Linked DNA regions of Homo sapiens. The protein of the gene in region 2 interacts with the protein of the main gene of each other region in a pairwise test. Each region holds a gene or a part of one and is shown on either strand. Other genes may lie near its edges.

Region 1 (3,500 bases), on a different chromosome or scaffold from region 2:
ACAATTGGACTAGAGGTGTGTGTGCATTCGTGTGTACATGTGCATGTGTGTGCATGTGTGTGTGCGTGTACGTGGTCTTAAACTTTTTAATGGGGTATCATATACACAAATGAACAATCCATGCAACTAACAACCCAGAGCAAGGACCAGAACGTGATCAGTCCCCAAGTGTCCCCATGCCACTTCACAGTCATTACTCACCCAAGGATAGTCACGACTTGACTTCTGATCACATAGAAGAGTTCTGCCTGTTTTTTGGACTTTGTGAGCATGGAATCGTTTCAGGAGTTGATATGGTTTGGCTGTATCCCCACCCAAATCTCATCTTGAATCGTAGTTCCCATAATCTCCACCTCTTGTGGGATAGACCCTGTGGGAGGTAATTGATTCATGGGGGTGGTTTACCTTGGTGCTGTTCTTGTGATGGTCAGTGAGTTCCCACAAGATCTGATGGTTTTATAAGGGGCTTTTTCCCTTTTGCTCGGTACTTCCCCTTCCTGCTGCCATGTGAAGAAGGACATGTTTGCTTCCCCTTCCACCATGATTGTAAGTTTCCTGAGGCCTCCCCAGCCATGCTGGACTCTGAGTCAATTCAACCTTTTTCATCTATAAATTACCCAGTCTCAGGTATGTCTTTAGTAGCAACGTTGAGAATGAACTAATAGAGGAGTAGTCTTTTGTGTGTGTCTTTTCTCTCAGTAGTACATGTGTGAGACTCACTATCTTGTATGCGGTTGTAGTCACTTGCACTTTTTTTTTTTTTTTTTTTTTTTTTGCTGTGTAGCCTTCCATTGTGTGAGTACACCACCATATTTTTATCCATCCGACCATTGGTGGGCATTTGGTCGTTTCCAGTTTTGGGCTTTTGCGAACAGTGCTGCTATGAATATTTCAGTGCACGTCTTTTGGTAAACATACGTAGGCATTTCTGTTGGGTATACCTAGGAGTGGAGATTCTACGTGTTGTAACATTAGTTCTCAGACCAAGTTTATCCAAGCCAGTCTTTTCACATTTCCCAGGCCTCAGAAGCTGAGTGCCTGGAATACAGAACTGAAGTCCGGGAGAAGGAGGAGACAGACAAGAAAAGGGCCGCTGAGAACCCAGGAGAGCTGACCCTGATTCACTTTAGATCCCGACTCGCATTGTCCTCCATGATTTCTTTCATACCCTTGGATCAAGCTAATCTGCTTGGGCAGACCCAAGGCAGGGACTCAGGCCGGGAAAGCAGTGTGCAATGTGGGTTTAACATCCTGATCCTGCAAGAGAAGCCCCTCAAACTACATCCCCACGCAGTGCCTGGGGCAGCCCTGCAGAAAACCTAGGAGGTACCAGCATTTCCACTTAGGAGATGCCTGAGGGAAGGATTAGGGCTTCACGGGGAGGTGCTTGGCAAATTGCTTGGCTGAATCAGGCCTGGGGAGGGATCTTGGAAGTCCTGGGCCAAGGTTGGATTGTTGGATAATGCACGTTTTGTTACCCAAAAGAAATCTGCGGAGTCTAGACAACCCCAGAGCAGAATCAGGAGAAGGAAACCCTCTAAGGCCCTGCTATTTAGAAAAAAAAAAAAAAAATTGCATTGGTCAACAAAACAATCTGTGTACAAATGGGAAAAACAATCTCTCCTCCCCTGTCAAACCGGTGACAGAAGTGGGGTCCCACATGGACTGTGGCTGCGAAGGGAGAGGGAGGAGAAGGCTTTTCTCGAAAAGAAGAGGAGGGCGTCATTCAGCCTCTTGTGGACTGTGGTCTATGTGTGGGGCCTCCAAATTCTCCTCTGTGCCTGTTTATACTTCATGATAAACTGCGTACTTTGGGGATGAAATGTGACTGACATCTCATTCTGTATTCTGCACACTCATCTTAAAGATTCAAGAGAGGAGGCTGCATGGGGAATCATGACCCGGAGGAGATCTGACTTCTTTCCCTCTTGCTGCATTTGGGCTGGGCCTGGGCTCTGGGGAGGGCTTTCCGGCATTGCCCCCTCCCAGGCAGCTCTGCCCCACTTCCCACCCCAGGTCCTCCTCCTGTTTCCTGCCCTTCCAGCCCTTCTCGCCTAGGCCTCCTTCCCCATGTGGCTGCAGATAGTGCTGTGAGGCTGTTTCCTGCCCTCTGACTTGTCTTGAAGAAGCAGTGGTAGGAGGCTGGGTGTGGTGGCTCACGCCTGTAATCCCAACACTTTGGGAGGCTGAGGCAGGTGGATCACCTGAGGTCAGGAGTTCGAGACCAGCCTGGCCAGCGTGGTGAAACCCCATCTCTACTAAAAATACAAAAATTAGCAGGGTGTGGTGGCACGTGCTGTCATCTCAGCTCCTCGGGAGGCTGAGGCAGGAGAATTGCTTGAACCAGGGAGGAGGAGGTTGCAGTGAACTGAGATTGCGCCACTGCACTCCAGCCTGGGTGACAGAGCAAGACTCTGTCTCGGCTTAAAAAAAAAAAAAAAAAAAAAAGTAGTGGTAGGAGGCTATCTTTTGGGAGGGGTCTGTAGGCTGAAGGTCCATGGCACAGCTGCATGTGTCTACTGGGCCCTGCCAGACCTCCCAGGCCTCCACCAGGGATTGAACCTGGGGAAGGCTACCTGGCTCTGTGGATGGCTCTGGCTCTGGCTCTGGCCCTTGGTACTAAGGGGCCCTGGGGCTCTTCTCTCAGGCTTGATGGATGGGGGACCGGGGCCCGGAGGTCTGAGGAAGAGCCTGGTGTGGCCTCCCACGGCCTGTCCTTGTCTTCTCTGCTGCCCGGAGCCCAGAGCTCCCGTGGCCTCAGCTGGTTTCTGCGGTGAGCGAGTACAGAGAGATAAATGTGCGCATTTCTCCAGCTGCACGAACACCCAGTCACAGTTCCCTTCTCAGTGCCAGGGAGGTCTCTGCTTTCTGGAGAGATGGGGGCTCATTCAATTTCCAATGGTAAAGGGTGGGGATGGGGACAAGAAAAGGGGGACGAAGGAGGATGAGAGAGACAGAGAGAGACGAAGAGCGTCTGGGGAGGAGACGGGGCCTCGGTGGGTAATAAACACATCCCGTCTGTAAATGAGAGGATCTATTTGTATCTCCCAGCGTCCCAGCTTTCCTTATTTATATGGAAATATGGAGGGAACGTGTGCCTGTTCTGAGTTGTATCACTGGGGCCTCACATTAGATATATTTCAATTTAGCTGATGCCAAGAGTGGTGAAGTGACTCTGGGGAAGCGATGTCAGCTTGCTCTGCTGACAGTCCCGGGGCCAGTGGTGGCTTTTAGGGGAGTGGGTCACTGGGGGAGAGTCGGCCTGACCTGCTTCCCTCCTGGGTACCCACCCCCTGCCTAGTCTTTGGGCATTTCCAGAGCACAAAATGTGCCTGGTACCCCGAGGGCTCATTGGGAAGGGGTAGGGGCTGTCTCCCCAGGTCTCAGGGGTTTCTGGAGTTCCATGCCATCTGCAGAAGATGGGAGCAGCTCCTGAGCCCCTGGCACGGGGGGACTTGGTCCAGTCTGATGGGGTGGGGCTTGAAGAACTACAGAAGGGG
Region 2 (3,500 bases):
CTCATGAGGTTCAGGGTGGGACCTCCCACCCATTCAGGGCATGACAGATGATTTTGCAGGTTGTGCAGTGCTCAGCCTGTGCAACCACACATGGCAGTCCTGCCCTACCACCCCAACATCAGAGTGGCAGCCATCTCTTCTCATCCCTAGTGCATCCCCAGAAAAGGAAGCCTATTTAATAGATAATCTCAAATCCCTCCCACTGCCATGTCTAGCAGGCAGGTGTCCTGTGCCACTCACCTTGCTGCGGTACCAGGACTCGGCCTCAGCCCGGCTACGGGTGACAATGTCATCGTACTGTGCCTTGATCTCGGCAATGATGCAGTCCATGTTCAGGTCCCGGCTGTTGTCCAGCTTGACAACCACGGAGGTGTCTGAGATGTGGGACTGGAGAACGCGGATCTCCTGCAGGAGGTGAGGGCAGTGACTTTAGTTGAGAACACAGCCCCACCCACCATGTCCTGACTCCACCTCCTCAGGCTTTCTCTGGTCCCCAACCCTGCCCCCTCACACAGCCTCAGGGACTGCAACCTCTACCCACATCCTGTCCAACACTCCCACCCCCATCTCTCCTCTCTGCTGGCTGCCAGGTCTCTGCCTGGCCCCTGAGCCCGCACCTCCTCATACAGCCGCCTCAGGAAGTCGATCTCCTGGATCAGGGCCTCCACATTGGCCTCCAGGTCTGATTTGCGGAGGTAGGCGCAGTCCACATCCTGGAAAGGTGGGGAGTGTTGGAGCTCAAGGACCCTGGTGATCCAGCCTCTAGATTCCTCTCTCTTCCCACCCATTCCATGAAGCCTGGGGAAAGGAGTCCCCAGTGTCTCATTCCCATGCCCTCTCCTTCCCTTCTGGCCCTTCCCGGGGTGACCTGGCATCCTCTGCCATTCTGAGGACAAACCCTGTTTGTCTTGGGCACGGCTCACCAGCCTTTCACTGCTCCTTACCCTCTTATCTCTCCTTTCTCCCCTCTCCTGCTCCAGGAAGCCTGCCCAGACTGACCCCCCAGCTCTCACACCCTGACCCTTTCCTGTCCCCCAGCAGTGCTCCAAAAGCCCAAGGGCTACTCCTGGTTCTTCTCCATCCCCCCTTAGAACCTGGGATTGTGTCTCTGCCTCAAGGTCAGACTCCCCAAAATGCTAGACAGACTGCACTGTCTCTCAGCAGAGACATTGTATCTGCTATGGCTCCAGGGGCCTCAGCAATAGACCACAACCTCTGGAACAGAGCAGGACACACAGAGGACAGTGCAGCCATCCCCTTGCCCAAGGTAGGTGCTGGTAGATATTCCCAAGTCATTGCCCTTTGTCAAGGCCCTGGATGCTCAATACAAAGGCCTGCATCTGGGCAGTCCTAGCCTGCTGTGGAAAGGTCATTGTGCCCCACGCTGAGGTTGAGACCCCCTGTGTGTCCCCAGGAAGAATCTGTCATTCTGAGATCCCACAGATCTGTGCTTCTCAATCCTGTGTCACTTGCCTTCTTCAGAGCCACAAACTCGTTCTCAGCTGTTGCTCTCAGAGAAACCTCCTCCTCATACCTGAGACAGAGCAGAGGGAAGAGAGGGGAGGTCAGGGCAGGGCAGGTCTCTGCAGAGCCACCATCACATCACACTTCATCACAGCCATGGGGACAGTACTAGAAACACCTCCACACAGCCCCGGCCTGGCAGCCTAGCTTAGTGCTTTCTAGTTGGATGTGGGATGTGTCTGGGATTCTCTATCCACTTTGAACTGGGGATGGAGAGTGCTCATCTGGGACCTCCCAGTCCTGTTCCCAAAGGGGCTCTGAGGTCCCCCAGGAGGCAAATAGGACTCAGCCCCCAGCCCCATCCTGGGAGTGGACAGCGTGGACTCTCAGGGCCTGTAGCCCTAGCCTCCCCTCACTGGTATCAATCCCAGCTCAGGTATGGGGCCTCCTGGACCCGCAGACCCTCAGGACTTAGAACCTAAGGCAGTGCGACACCCAGAGCCCAAGACCTGTCACTCATGAGAGACCCTGGGCTCACATCTGACAGGTGCTACAAGTATAGGGGCTGAGGGTCAGGAGAGAAGGCCTGGACCCTGCAGAGGCTTCCTCCCCACCCAGCGCAGGGGAGAGCTGCTGGGTGATGTGGTTCAGGGAGAGAAGGCTGAAGTGGGACAGAGACAGGTCATGGGAGTCACAGCCCTCCTCTTACACAGGTGTCTGGGCAAAGATTCCACAAAGGAAAAGACCCCGCCACCCTCGGTCAATCTAGTGGTCATGGCCACTCACCCTACCTGGGAGTTCTTATTGTCTAATCCAGTGTATTTAACCTAAACCCCATTCCTGTGCCCAGCATCCCTCTTGCCCGCACTCACTTCTTCTTGTAGCCCTCCAGCACCTCCTGCACGTGGTTAAGCTCTGAGGCCAGCCTCCCGCTGTCGGCCTCCACGCACTCGGCCTCCCGCCGCAGAGTCTCGATGTAGCCCTCAAACAGGGGCTCCAGGTTGCTCTGGCAACACTCGCGGTTCTGGTAGAACTGCAGCTTTGTCTCCAGCAGTTTGTTCTGCTGCTCCAGGAAGCGCACCTGCCATTCGGTGTGGGAAGGTGGGGCAGATGGTGTCTGGTGCCCCAAAGCCAGCTCTGGGGGCTCGCAGGGGAGGTGCTTTAATGGGAACCCCCAAATCTGGAGCTTATCTGAGATTGAGTAGAGGTGGGCAGTGGGAGACAGACAATTTCTGGATTTCCTGGTCATGATCTGTGTCTAGATTTCCCACTCAGGAGTGGAGCAAGGGCTGGGTGGTGTCAGTGCCTGCTCCCTGGGGAGTTGAGTGACCCCCCCCCCACCCCCCACCCAAGCAGATGAACAGAAGTAGAGGCTCAGTCCCTCACTATGAAACTAGGTGATCAGCAACCCACACAGGCAGAGTACTCAGGTTCAGATCACAGATGAGGTTTCTGGGGATGGTGCCAGGAAGAGGGTGTCACAGGCCATCTGGAAGGGAGCTCAGCTGTCCCAGCCCTTCCCCTGTGTCATCTGGAAGTCAGTGCACCCTACTCTCTCACCCTGGGGCTGCCCAAACCCCTCTGAGTTCAGCAGCAGTGGTCACATGCCCCCCTCCCCCAACTCCCTGATGTCTAGCTTGTGCCCCAGAGCAGCCTGGCCACACTTTTCCTTCACAAGCTCCCTCTATCTGAACTGTCAGCTGAGTCTGCATCTTGAGTGCCTGTGTGTGTGTGTCTGTGCATGTGTCTGTCTGTCTGTGTGTCTGTGTGCCTCGCCCATCAGACTGGGATCTCAGGCAGGCAGAGGTCTTTGTGCCTCTGACTCCATCCTTAGTGCCCGGCCCTGGCTGTGTAGGTGGTGGGGGTTCAGGAAGGGTGTGATCCAGGACACCCACCTTGTCGATGAAGGCCGCGAACCTGCTGTTGAGGGACTTGATCTGCTCCTTCTCCTCCTGCTTCACGCACTGCGCGTTGGGGTCGATCTCCAGGTTGAGGGGCGTGAGGAGGCTCTCGTTGACCGACACGGTGGTGATGCA
Region 3 (4,075 bases), on a different chromosome or scaffold from region 2:
AATACTAATGGCTGGCCAAAAGGAAGCATGTACTGGGTCCTCCTTTCAGTGACATGACCTGATGATCTGAGACGAATTATTTTATCTCCCAGTGCCCCAGGTCCTGAAGAGTCAATTCTACTTGCTGCCAGATAATGGCCATGATGCAAATGATATATTAGCTCTGGTAAGGCATTACTCTGGTTACTACTGGCATTGGAAAATAATTACTCTCATTATAGTTTTGTCTGCATCTGGGGATTAACATTCTCCTAAGAGTAGGCCTTTGGCTCTTTCAGGGCAAATGGTCCATACCTGTGTTTTACAAATCACCCCAAATAGGTTGCTTCCAGCTGTAATTCTGGTCCCTATGTGGCAACAATTTCACTTCCAAGCTAAGAGAGTAAGAAAAAGGTCTTCTGGAATTGCTAATATGCACTGCTTGAAGAATGCTTGAGCTTCTCTGCAGCGAGGACTGCGCGGGCCTAACTACTTCTAGTCGGGGTCATCAGGCAAGATCATCACCTGAGTTGCTATGGACTGCAGCCATGCTGTTGTGTCCATTAAGACACCACAGAACTGACTCTCAAAACCTTTAATAAAGTAATTCTAGAAAATCAAAGCAAAGAGAAAAAAGCTGAACTTCTTTTTTTGTTTTTCCGAGACCCGTCACCCAGGCTGGAGTGCAGAGTGGTGCAATCTTGGCTCACTGCAACCTCCACTTCCCAAGTTTATGCGATTCTCCTGCCTCAGCCTCCCGACTAGCTGGGACTACAGGCGTGCACCACCACACCGGGCTAATTTTTGTATTTTTAGTAGACACGGGGTTCCACCATGTTGGACAGGCTGGTCTCAAACTCCTGAACTCAGGTGATCTGCCCTCCTCGGCCTCCCAAAGTGCTGGGATTACACCGTACTTGGCCAAAACCTGAACCTCTATTAACCTGTGGGGTGGCATTTGTTCTAAGTGGGTAAGAAAGGCCATCTAGAATAAAGGAGAAAGAAGAGATCTGGAGTCAACTTCAAATTATAGCTTTGCTATTTAGAAGCTATTTGGACATATTACCTGACCTTTCTGCCTATCAGCATAATACAGGCAGTGAAATGACTGTTGGGAGAGCTTCACAAAGCAATGTACGAACAGCACTACTGCCAGCACATGGCCTCACAGAAAAGCTGAGCATTGTTTATACATCTTGCTTGTGGTACCCACCACATTCCACCTTTAAAGACAGGTGACTGAACGTGTACGTATCTAGTCCCACTTCTAGACTGTAAACTCCTCGGCAGCAGAGCTTTACAGGCATTATAGCATAGTGGTCAACAGCATAGATATAAGAATTCAACCCCAGCTCCAAGTCTTGTTATCTTGGGCGAGGTACTGAACTAAATGTGTCTTCATCAGTAAAATGGAAATAACATCACATATTAACACGTATTCCACGGGACTGTTGAAGATCACTCAAGAAAACACAGCTGAGGCTATGAGTACTTTCCTAGCCCACCGTAAGTGCCTGATAAATGGTAGTGATTATCTTTTCATGTCTTGTGTCCCTTATACCTGCTAACGCAATCTAGCTAATACCTACAGCTTTGAAGGTTTATGAAGCTGAGACACTGCCCCACCCACAGAAATCCAGAAATATCAGTATCAAGATGCCAAGGAGAAGGGTCCCCTACCTCTGGAAAATCTCTTGCAGCGTATCCCGGGTGAAGGCATTGCTGTCCTGGAAGACGTTATTGAGGGCGTGGAGGGCACAAAGCTCCCTGCGCTGTTTCTCATGGTAGATTTGTGGGGGTGCTGCCTGGGGCAGCTCCAATGATTCAGATTTGGCCTTGTCTCCTTTCCATGGCACACAACTCATGTTTTTTGTTTTAGGTTCCAGAGATGGCTATAAACACCCCACTCTTCCCTCTAGAGGAAGAATGTAAGCTTCTCAGTCTTTTCCGGATTCCTGAGGTCCACCTTATTCTCTGGTGTCCATGATTTATGCTTTGTCACTGGGAGAAAAGATTGGAATCAAAAGGAAAAAAATAAAACCCACCTCTTCTCTCTTCTCAATAGAAAAATAACTTTTGGATTACTTTTATTTTGCTACCACTGTCAAAGTGCAGAATTTAAAAAAACACATAAAATGTAAGACCTTGTTTCCGTTTCCCCACCCTTCCCTCCCACCCCCCTCCAAAATCCCCACGATTTTCTTGCTGTTTCCCTCTGCAAATGCCAGGCCTCAAAGCAGGAGGACCGAACACAATCGGTCACATCGCTCCTTTTCTTCCATTTCTTTTGAACCACGACGCCAATGACTCGGGAGACAAGGCCTGGGTGACGGATAAATTTAGCGCACGAGTCGAGTAGCTAGCGCGGGCCGGCAGGCGTGGGACCGCGAGCCGCGCGGGGGCCTCGGGGGCAGCCCTCCATCCCCTCGGGTACGGTGGGGCCCGCAGGGCGCGGCTCCCTCGGAAGGCGCGGATTCTAGCCCTCTGGCCGCGGCCCTGCGGAGGAGGAGACAACTCCGGTCAGCGGCGAGCGGGCGCGGGAAGTGAGCGGCGGGGCCGGCCCCTGCCCGAGGGAAGGTTCCGCGCGGCGAAGGGCTGGCCCGCGAGGGGTGGGGCCGGACAGTCAGCCTCGCGCTCCCGGGCCCGCGCCCACCCGGCTCGCAGCCCCTACACAAACCTCCCCGCCCGTCACGTGAGCGCAGGCCCAGACGCCCTCCCGCCGCGCCCCCGGCCGCAGACCCCAGGGCCGCCGGGACTGCTCGCCGCTGGCGGTCCCCTCACCGCAGCCGGCCGCCACCTGGAGTGCGCGCCGCCAACTGGGCCGTGCGGGCGGGCGCGCGCACCTGAGCCCGACGTCAGCGGCCCCCGCCCGGCGCGTGCTCCGGAAACGCCCTCCCGCGCCGTCCTCACTCCTCCCAGCCGTGGCGTCACGCCTGACGTAAGTCTGACGTCATCGGCACCGGCCTGGGAGCCGCAGACGCCGGGCGTGTAGGGGCGCAGTTCAACGGTTGGGGTGTTGCAAAGGCCGTGGGTGTGGGGCTGCGGGCTGCGCACCTCGGCGGCGGCCGGCAGGGTTGGGGTCCAGCCGCTCCGCTCGGCGCGGCCCCTGGCGGGGCGGCCTGAGGGAGTCCTACCTGGACGCCAGCCTGCCCTTCTCCCGGGCGTGGGCGTTGTTTCGGGGCGGCAGCCAGGCCAGCGGCTGCAGTCCGCGGCTTTCAGCACCCCTCCCTTCTCTGTGCCGGGCTTTTCGGCCGAACGTTCTCGCTCCTTCTGCGTTGACTGTTTTATGTGTGGTTAACGCGCGGCTCACCAGGGGGGATTTTGAAGCACCTGATTCGGTCGGGCGCAAATTGCCTTGGTTAGTGGGCCCGACCGTGCCGCACTGTCCAGGGAGCGTCAAGGGTAGGTGTCTCGCTGGGAGTCACATTTCAAGTGGAAAGGAGAATCCTGTTGCAGTTCCTTGGTGTCGCATTTCGGTTCACTACACACAAGCCACTGCCTTCTTGCCTGGGGGCTCCCCGCTCTTCTCACGGTGGCTTTCCTCTCTGCAGAGACCTCTGCGCGAGGTATACCTAAGCGCATTGTGTGCGTCTTCGGGAAAAGGCGAAAACTACTCGCAGTCCCACGTGGATTTCATTTTTTCCCCTTTACCTACTCTTAGGGTGCGTGGTAGGCATCATTATCCACCTTAGCTGCCCTTCTTTTGGGTTTTCTGTAAAACTGGAAAAACGAGAAGAAACTGTTGCACTTCAAATTTAGTTGTTTTGTTTTGTTTTTTGGAGACGGAGTTTCGCTCTTGTTGCCCAGACTGGAGTGCAATGGCATGATCTCCGCTCACCGCAACGTCCGCCTCCCGGGTTCAAGCAATTCTCCTGCCTCAGCCTCCCGAGTAGCTGGGATTGCAGGCATGCGCCACCACGCCCGGCTAATTTTGTGTGTTTAGTAGAGGGGTTTCTTCATGTTGGTCAGGCTGGTCTCGAACTCCCGACCTCAGGTGATCCACCCGCCTTGGCCTCCCAAGGTGTTGGGATTACAGAAGTGAGCCACCGTGCCCGGCCTTTTTTTTTTTTTTTTTTTTTAAGATGGAGTTTAACTT
Region 4 (3,465 bases), on a different chromosome or scaffold from region 2:
GTTTGGCATCCATATACTAACCAGAGCTGGCCAATCCCCCAAACCACAAGAATGTTGAAAAATGACAAGCTGTATGGCCACCCCGCCTTGGCCAGCAAACATGCCCCTCGTCCCACCTACCACCCCGTAGTTTTTGTATCCTGATCATTGTCCAGTAAAACCACAATCCCACTGTGCTCGAGGAGTCTCTTTTCCAGACTCCCTACTGCAGTAGCTTTGAAAAAGTGTTTCCTTCAACTCTAACTAATCTGTTTCTGCTTTGACCATTTGGTTTCTGGGCTAGGCCATTTCACTGGATCATCTGGAAAACAATGTCTGGGGATGCCCACCAGAAGAGTGTCTTCTCCTGGAGTTTGGAGGTAGTTGAGTATGGAGGAGGGAATGGGAGGGTGGATCTCACCATATCGTCCTTCTATTGCCATCCACTAATTATTCCAATGTTCACTAACTCTGCAGGGCTCCTGCAGTGGGTTTAACCAAAAGACTTTCACACAACACCAGCAGATTGCAGTTATGTATTCAGTTTCCTACGTACTTCAACAACAGGGGCCATGGGAAGGAGAGGAGAAACATTGGGAGAGCTGCCTGGCTGGAGTAACTGACTTCTATTAAGTAATGGGTTCCTATGCGCACTTTACAAAATCATCTTCCTACAGGAAAATCGGCTTCCACAGGGATAACACGGGTTGCAAGGATCATATGGGCTGCACGGGTTGCAGGGGCTGCAGGGGTTGCAGGGGCTGCAGGGGCTGCAGGGGCTGCAAGGAGAAGTGCAAGGGTAGCAAGGAGACTCGATCTTGACACAGCTGCCGAGCCCATAGGAGTATGTTACATCCTTCTCATCCACACAGGGCGGCAAGCTGAACTCTTTGCAGATGTTCATGTAGCTGTACTTTTTCGATCCAAGGCAGTCGTACCTGTTCTCCCGCTCAGCCGACACACATACCTTTCCATCCTTCACTCGAACTTTGACTTGATCGGGTTCAAAACCGCATACATTCACCGATCCTAAAATGTTACTGCTACAGCAGGAGGAAGCCAGAATTCTATTTGTTGTTCTTCTCAGTCTGGAATTGAGAAAAGGGATAGGGTGGGAGGGAGCTCAGACCTCAGAATCCAGACACAGCTTGAGAAGCAATATTTTGATTTCTAGCTTTTGAAATAGCCAAAGTTAATACTAGCCATTGTGAAAATAAACTTTACACAAATGCATGAAGTAAAAAGTGTGAGTCCACCCATGCGAATCACACTGCCCCGCAAGTACACAGCTGTTAACAATGAATGCGTGCTGCCTGCCCTTCCAAATCTTCTCTCGTATTGAAATACCAGCTCCTCCTCTTATTATTGATCCTTGTGTAGGTTCCTTAACCCTTCTGTACCTCAGTTTCCTCATCTGCAAAATGGAGATAATAATAATGATAACAATAATAATGCCTGCATCATATAGGGCTATTGGAGGATTAGATGAGATTATGATATTTTACTTAGCACTGTGCTTCGTACATTATAAATCCTGCTTAATTATTACCACTCTCATTATTATTACTGTAATTAAATTGTGTATATAACTATAATTAAATTATATAAAAATTATATTTTATATTTATATAGATTAAAAAATGGGATATAACTAAGATACCACTTAAAATCTGCATTTTAGAGATGGCTGTCAGCTTTCGAACCCAGCCCTACTGGTTCATGGGACAGGTGCTACCTCTTGCAATTGCACAGAGACAGCCTGAAAGCTCAATCAAACAATGATGGCAGGAGAGCCCTGGCCTGGCTCTGCCCAGGCTGGTGTTGTGTGAAAGTCTTTTGCCCAGCGCCTGGCTCCTCCAGGCTGGGAAGTCACTCTAGCCTCTGGACAGCTAGCACTAGCAGAAAGGCAGTCAGCTGGGTGGGGCCGTGTTGATCAGATACAGAACAACCTCTCAGTGGTGTCCATAATCAGGATCACATCAGCTAGCAAGAGCTGATCGTGTACATCTCTTCCCGATCCCCAGTTAGTACTGCACGCTGATAGCTTGAAATCAATCATAGTCATGATGAGGATATTTACACCATGGAAATTGGAAAATGCTACATATTAGGGCTCTCCTCTGTCCTCACTGCAGAGCTACTGTGGTTCCTACCTTGTTGCTATTCACTAATTCTATTGTGTAAATCCTTAATAAAAATAACAACAGCAGCTCACACTAATTGATCAGTTATGATCCGTCAAGAGGTAGTAAAGCAAAGTGCCTAAGAACAGACTCTGGAACTGGAGTATCGAGGTTTAAAGCTTGGCTCTAACATGTGGATAACTTACTTCTCGGTGCCTCAGTTTCCTCATCTGTAAAACTGGGACAATAAAAATAGCCTACATCATAGGGTTGTTGTGAGGCTTAAATCAGTTAATGCAAGAAAATATTTACAATAATACTTGGCACATAGGATGTTAAGGTTTTGTCTTTTCTTTTTTTTTTTTTTGCAATGTGCTGTGGAAGGTGCTAAGCATGTTAAAGGCATATTTCATTTAATCTTTACAATAATAACTGTGATGCAGATGTAATTATCACTATATCACTTTTGTATGTTGAATTTTGTTTATGCAGTTACTTCTTTTTGTTACATAAGTTATACAAGTTCATTGTAGAAGACTCAAAATACAGATAAGTAAACATATGGACTATTTTAAAAATACCTATAATCTCATATAACCCTTAGCATTTTGGTGTTTGACTTTATGTGAGTGTGTGTGTGAGTATGTGTCTGTGTGTGTGTGTGTGTGTGTAGTTCTATATACATGTAGAGAGAGAGTTTTGTATGTGTTCTTATGAAATCATGCTATACGTACTGATTTTTATCTGTATTTTCCACTTAAGCCCTAACATGATTAGATAACAGTTTGAGTGCTCACTACCCTTGTACTGAAAGTTACAGATCAAGACTCTTAGTGGCTAATTATAAAATGATCAAACAGAACTCAGTCCCAGAAGACACTGAGGCAAACAGAAACAACTTGTGTAATACACCCAGAGGACTGTATTCAGTCCCATTTCTTTTTTTTCTTTTTTCTTTTTTTTGAGACGGGGTCTCGCTCTGTTGCCCAGGCTGGAGTGCAGTGAGGCGATCTCTGCTCACTGCAAGCTCCGCCTCCCAGGTTCATGCCATTCTCCTGCCTCAGCCTCCTGAGTAGCTGGGAGTACAGGTGCCCGCCACCATGCTCGGCTAATTATTTTTTGTATTTTTAGTAGAGAAGGTGTTTCACCGTGTTAGCCAGGATGGTCTCGATCTCCTGACCTTGTGATCCGCCCACTTCAGCCTCCCAAAGTGCTGGGATTACAGGCGTGAGCCACCGCGCCCGGCCTCAGCCCCATTTCTACCTCTGGCCCCATGAAACCTGGGGGTGGCATGGGGCATGATTGTCTTTCTTGCCCTGGGTGTGCCAGGGTACCCTATGCCACACTAACAAGAAGTAGGAGA

What was found. Proteins that work in one complex are often made in the same cells at the same time.
Region 1: the proteins of KRT86 (region 2) and MGAT5B interact in a two-hybrid assay, tested with the Homo sapiens proteins (one large-scale study listed by BioGRID).
Region 3: the proteins of KRT86 (region 2) and JOSD1 interact in a two-hybrid assay, tested with the Homo sapiens proteins (one large-scale study listed by BioGRID and IntAct).
Region 4: the proteins of KRT86 (region 2) and ODF1 interact in a two-hybrid assay, tested with the Homo sapiens proteins (one large-scale study listed by BioGRID and IntAct).

What each region holds. Positions count from the first base shown.
Region 1 is NC_000017.11:76,874,904-76,878,403, forward strand, and holds part of MGAT5B (alpha-1,6-mannosylglycoprotein 6-beta-N-acetylglucosaminyltransferase B), read left to right. Parts: intron 1-3,500. UniProt on the Homo sapiens protein: Glycosyltransferase that acts on alpha-linked mannose of N-glycans and O-mannosyl glycans.
Region 2 is NC_000012.12:52,302,145-52,305,644, reverse strand, and holds part of KRT86 (keratin, type II cuticular Hb6), read right to left. Parts: coding exon 3,360-3,500; intron 2,546-3,359; coding exon 2,337-2,545; intron 1,535-2,336; coding exon 1,474-1,534; intron 714-1,473; coding exon 618-713; intron 406-617; coding exon 241-405; intron 1-240.
Region 3 is NC_000022.11:38,698,144-38,702,218, forward strand, and holds the start of JOSD1 (josephin-1), read right to left. Parts: upstream 2,801-4,075; 5' UTR 2,657-2,800; exon of another isoform or gene 2,476-2,656; 5' UTR 1,845-2,475; coding exon 1,660-1,844; intron 1-1,659.
Region 4 is NC_000008.11:102,558,054-102,561,518, reverse strand, and holds the end of ODF1 (outer dense fiber protein 1), read right to left. Parts: intron 1,068-3,465; coding exon 635-1,067; 3' UTR 501-634; downstream 1-500.